Regions from separate parts of the Homo sapiens genome. Here region 1 is linked to region 2. The links come from fine-mapping of genetic effects on gene expression. A gene starts in region 2. The other region holds a variant in brackets. All regions are shown on one strand. Distances are between the middles of the regions.

What was found. PIP is the estimated chance that this variant, and not a neighbour inherited with it, causes the effect.
Region 1: its variant is the best candidate, but not a certain one, in a credible set for the expression of TRAF3 in whole blood (TOPMed, PIP 0.64).

Annotation. Positions count from the first base shown.
Region 1 is chr14:102,844,696-102,847,499 of GRCh38, forward strand. All of the region lies in intron 2 of TRAF3 (TNF receptor associated factor 3), which reads left to right. Among named protein-coding and RNA genes, the nearest start is that of TRAF3, 69 kb to the left of the region's middle. The variant G/A (reference allele first, on the strand shown) is at 1,408.
Region 2 is chr14:102,775,981-102,778,784 of GRCh38, forward strand. TRAF3 (TNF receptor associated factor 3) reads left to right here and starts at 1,469. Exons shown (of 12, transcript NM_145725.3): 1 at 1,469-1,695. RefSeq lists an enhancer at 42-281 and silencers at 992-1,051, 1,142-1,751, 1,962-2,011, 2,252-2,311.

The DNA of each region.
Region 1 (2,804 bases), 69 kb after region 2:
TAAAATTTCATGAATTCTTTATTCAAAATTATGATGAAATTCTATAATAAAGAATTCTTAGTTGGCCAGGTGTGGTGGCTCATGCCTGTAATCCCAGCACTTTGGGAGGCTGAGGCGGGAGGGTTGCTTGAGGCCAGGAGTTTGAGACCAGCCTGGGCAACATAGTGAGACTCCCACCTCTAAAAAAAAAAAAAAATGTTGTTTTTGTTTTGTTTTTTTTGAGACGGAGTCTCGCACTGTTGCCCAGACTGGAGTGCAGTGGTGCAATTTTGGCTCACTGCAAGCCCTGCCTCCTGGGTTCACACCATTCTCCTGCCTCAGCCTCCTGAGTAGCTGGGACTACAGGTGGCTGCCAGCACGCCGGCTAATTTTTTGTATTTTTAGTAGAGACAGGGTTTCACTGTGTTAACTAGGATGGACTTAATCTCCTGACCTCGTGATCCACCCACCTCGGCCTCCCAAAGTGCTGGAATTACAGGCGTGAGCCACCATGCCCGGCCCTAAAAATTTTTTGTTTTTTTTTTTGAGATGGAGTCTCACTTTGTTGCCCAGGCTGGAGTACAGTGGTGCAATCTTGGCTCACTGCAAGCTCTGCCTCCCGGGTTCAAGTGGTTCTCCTGCCTCAGCCTCCCGGTTAGTTGGGATTACAGGCGCACGCCACTAGCTCTGGCTAATTTTTTTATTTTTAGTAGAGATGGGGTTTCACCATGTTGGTCAGGCTGGTCTCGAACTCCTGACCTCAGGTGATCTGCCCACCTCAGTCTTCCAAAGTGCTGAGATTACAGGCATGAGCACCGTGCCCAGCCTAAAAATAAAAAAAAAATTTTTTTTTTTTTTCAAGACGGAGTCTCCCTCTGTCACCCAGGCTGGAGTGCAGTGGCGCCATCTCGGCTCACTGCAAGCTCTGCCTCGCAGGTTCATGCCATTCTCCTGCCTCAGCCTCCCGAGTAGCTGGGACTACAGGCACCTGCCACCATGCGTGGCTAATTTTTTTGTATTTTTAGTAGAGACAGGGTTTCACCGTGTTAGCCAGGATGGTCTTGATCTCCTGACCTCGTGATCTGCCCGCCTCGGCCTCCCAAAGTGCTGGGATTACAGGTGTGAGCCACTGCGCCCAGCCAAAAAAAGTTTTGAATTTGCTGGGTGTGGTGGCACATGCTTGTAATCCCAGCTACTGGGGAGGCTGAGGTGGGAGGATCTCTTGAGCCCAGGAGTTTCAAGGCTGTAGTAAGTCATGATCATGCCACTGCACTCTAGCCTGGGTGACAGAGGTCGACCGTGTCTCAAAAAAAAAAAAAAAAAAAAAAAAAAAAATACTATTATACCGCTGTTCAGTTAGCAGGAATTAAAAAGTTTGGCAATTGTTGTTGAAAAAGTTAAGCAACAGAAACTCTCTCATACCCTTCT[G/A]ATGGGAGTGCACATTACAGCTGCTTTGGGAAATAGTTTGGCTTTAGAGTATAAGCTAGCAATCATACTTCTAGGTATGTACACCAGAGAAACACATGCCTAAAGTGATTGAGATAGCTGTACCAGAAAAATCTTAAGTCGTGTTTATATTTGCTCCAAAGCAGAGACCACCCTCGGGGATGAGAATGGATAACTAAATTATGGTATATTTACTGAGTAGAATATTACACAGCAATGAAAATAAACTACAGACACAGCAACAACAAAAAAGGCAAAGAAAAAAGCAAGACAAGAATATATGTAGTATGATTTTGTTATTTTCATCTGCTTCTGGTTTTTATATAAGTTATGTTTGGTAGGGCTGCACACCTAGGTGATAAATCTCTAAAGAAAAGTTTGGAAATGATAAACCATAAAAGTTAAAGCACAGTAGCTCATGCCTGTAATCCCAGCACTTTGGGAGGCTGAGATGGGAGGATCACTTGAGCCCAGGAGTTCCAGACCAGTCTAGGCAACACAGGGAGATCCAGCTTCTTAAAAAAAAAAAAAAAAAAAAAAAAAAAATTTTCCGGACACGGTGGCATCCTCCTGTGGTCCCAGCTACTTGGGAGGCTAAGATGGGAGAATTGCCTGAGTTTGGGAGGTCGAGGCTGCCGTGAGTTGTGGTTGCACCACTGCACTCCAGCCTGGGTGACAGAGCAAGATGCTGCGTCAACAAATCAAACAAAATCATTTTGTTAAAGCTAGTACTTACTTACGTATGTGGTGGAAGGGTTTTGGGGTCAGATAGAGGCACCCAGCCTTTCTGGAGTTCTGGCAATGCTCCATCCCTTGGTGGTAGTTGGACTGGTATTTATGTAATAACTTCATGAAACGGTATACATATGTTTTCTATGCTTTTCTATAAGTAAGTAATACCTCATAGTAAAAGCAGTTTTAAAATAATCAGATTTTATAGTGCATGTTCCATTAAAAAAATGTGGAAAATCCCCAAAGCACATGCATATACAGTAGTTAATCATGTTTTATCTTAAATTTATTCATATTATAGAAATTTACCTTTTGAAATTTCATTTTTATTTATTTGAGATGGAGTCTCGCTCTGTCGCCCAGACTGGAGTGCAGTGGTGTGCATGATCTCAGCTCACTGCAGCCTCCGCCTCCTGGGTTCAAACTATTCTCCTGCCTTAGCCTCCCAAGTAGCTGGGATTACAGGTGTGTGCCACCACGCCCAGCTAATTCTTGTATTTTTGGTAGAGATGGCGTTTTACCATATTGGCCCGGCTGGTCTCGAACTCCTGACCTCAGGCAATCCACCCTCCTCGACCTCCCAAAGTGCTGGGATTACAACATGAGCCACTGCGCCTGGCCTTGAAATTTCATTTTTAAAAGCTCTA
Region 2 (2,804 bases):
GGGTGGGGGAGACCGCTGGAGTCCATAGGTCCCTGTGAGGGACGGCGAAGGCGGGCCTGTCACCTCTAAAAGAGCTGTGCCTGTGGCGCAGACGGGGGTGCCACTGTGGCCTGGTGAGTGTGGCTGTAGAACAAGCATCTGTTGGGCTAATGGAGCCAGAGACATGGTCCAATGTCTCTGATGTCCAGATAGACTTCCAGCAGCCAGGTCGGACTATCTGGGGTTCTGGAACGTTCCATGGGTGAAGCTGTAGGAGGAGATGCTGGACTTCCTGCCTCCACTCACATGAGTCACTGGAGCAATACAAGAAGGCAGACTGGCCTTGGCTACTCACACTGGTCTCAGCTCTGGGGTAGGGCTCTTTATAAGCCTTCTTGAGAAGTGAAAAATGCAAAGTCCTTTCTGTCCCCTCACCACTGACTTGCAAACTCCAGCGAAGGCCTCACCCCTCAGCTGGCCCAGAGCCTCCCAGAAGCCCTCCCTTCGCTTCCCACCTCGCCAGGCCCAGCCAGGCTGGGTGCTGCCTTGGTGGGCCTAGGTGAATCACTGACACACCACTGATGCCTTTGGGGCAGAAGGCAGAGGCCTCGGGAGAAATGCGCAGGCCCCAGCGGCCTGGTGGAGGGTGCAGGGGGCGCAGGGGCAGCCAGGACCGCCGAGGACGCTGGGGGCACGTGGCAAACTGGCTACCCTGTCCACCCGTGAGCAAGACACCACTCCGGGGGCGTGGGAGGGTCCAAGGGAGGGAGAAAGGAAAGTGCCACCAAACTAATGTGGAGCCCTGCCCTCTGCATGCGAAAAGGGGCTCCACGGCCTGAGTCACCCTCAGCCCCACCTGCGTGTGCGCGAGGGTGCGTGGCCTGGTACGCGTGCGCACGGTGTTGGTGAGCGTGTGTGTGCGTGTCCGCTTGAGGGGAATGTGACCGTCGTGTATGCGTCCGCGACAGTGCGGGGGGCCGCATATCGGACCCGTGCGTGTGCGTAGGGGTCGCGTGTGGCCATGGGCACACGGGCGTGCACGCACGGGGGCTGCGTATGCTATGCTGGCGTGGGGGGTGCGGGCGAGGTGGCCGCGGGGAGGAGCGGCGCCAGCACCTCTCGGCCCCCACGCGGCCTGCGTGGCTTTTTGACCCGGAAAGGCGGGGACGCGGGGACGCGCGGCGGCGGGGGCGCGGCGGGGGCGGCGCAGAGCGAGGAGGCCCGCGGGGCGCGCGGCGGGGACGGGAGGGAGGCGGGGGGCGCCCGGGGCCGTCCCCGCCCCGCGCCGCGGCGCCGCCGTTGCTAAGGCCGGGCGGGCGGCCGCCGGGCGCTAGGGCCCTTAGCAACGGGTCGCGGGCGCGCGCGGGGGGCCGGCGGGCGCGTGGGGCCGGCGGCGCTCGCGGGCTCCTGCCGCTCCCACGCGCGCGGGCGGCGGGGGCGGGGCGGCGGGCGCGCCGGGGATTTCCAGCGCGCGAGAGGAAGTGCCTGCGCGGGGCTGCGTGAGGGAGCGAGGGAGCGAGGGAGCGCGGCGCGGCCGCCGCGTGCGCGAGCCGGGGTTGCAGCCCAGCCGGGACTTTCCAGCCGGCGGCAGCCGCGGCGGCCGCCGGCTCTTCCCCGCCCCCCGCCATGGGGCAGCCCGGGGAGCAGAACGCTGCGGACCGCGGCGGAGGACGCGCCCGGCGCCCCTGAGCCGGCCGAGCGGCGACGGACCGCGAGGTAAGGGGCCGCGGCGGGCGGGCGGGCCTCCGGCGCGCGGCCGGGCGCCTCCATCCCCGTCGCCTCCATCCCGCGCCCTGGGCGGCGGGGCCCGGGGGCCTCGGGGCTGCCCGGCGCGGGCCCGGCGCGGCGCAGGCCCGGCCCGTCCCAGCGGCGACGGCGGGGCGCGGCTTCAGCCTGGCCCCGCGCCCCAGCCGGGCTGCCTCCCGCCTCCGGACGCCTCAACTTCGGCAAACTTTGTCCCGGAGGCCGGGCTCGGGGCCCGAGGGGGCCGGGGCGCCCGCACCTTTTCAGGAAACGGGGCGCGCAGGCCTCGCTACGGCCGTGACCCCCGCTGGCGTTGAGGACCCGGCACCCCGCGGGGCCGCGGGTTTCACGCGGGGGGACGGGCGGCTCAGGGGCTGCGTGGCCGAGCGCGCTGCCCGGGCCGGCCGGGGGGGCCCGGGCGTTATTGGAAAGTTGGTCCTGAGTCATTCCGCCTCAGAGGCGCCTCCGACCGCTTGGCGGGCGGCGCGGGGGTCCGGGTATGGGCAGAGGGCGCGAATCCCCCTCGCGCGGCCGCCGAGGGCCGGCGACTCCCGGGGCACCGGGCGGCTCCTGGCCGCGGGCTCTGCGTCTTCCCCGCGGGCGCCAGGCGGCTCTCGGCGGGCTGGCCGGTTCCACGCCGCCAGCCAGCCCCGTGTGGGGACTTCGGTCTAGTATTTGGACCCGAGGAGATAATTCTGTGTGGAAAATTCTCTCCCTTCGGTTGGAAACAGTAACAAACTGGAAACGGATGAGGTGTTATGGACGTGCTTGGAAATGCAAGAAACCTTCAGATTACGAGCTGTTGACGGGACCAGTTGTATTTCACGTTTTTCGAATTAAGCTCAGAATCAGTTTTCAGAATGACATGTGATGCGTGGTGCGTGGTGTGTGTGCCTGTGTGTGTGTATGGATATAATTCATTCATTTTTGTGGCGTCAGAAAGGTTATGTCGAGCGTTGTAGCGGCTTCTTAATTTACATTCACGGCATACAACTGAAGAGGAGCCATTATTTATTTTTTTTCCTAGCATTTGCTGCGACTACACACTGCCGGAGCGTTTGGAAATGTTGTTTGCTGTTACC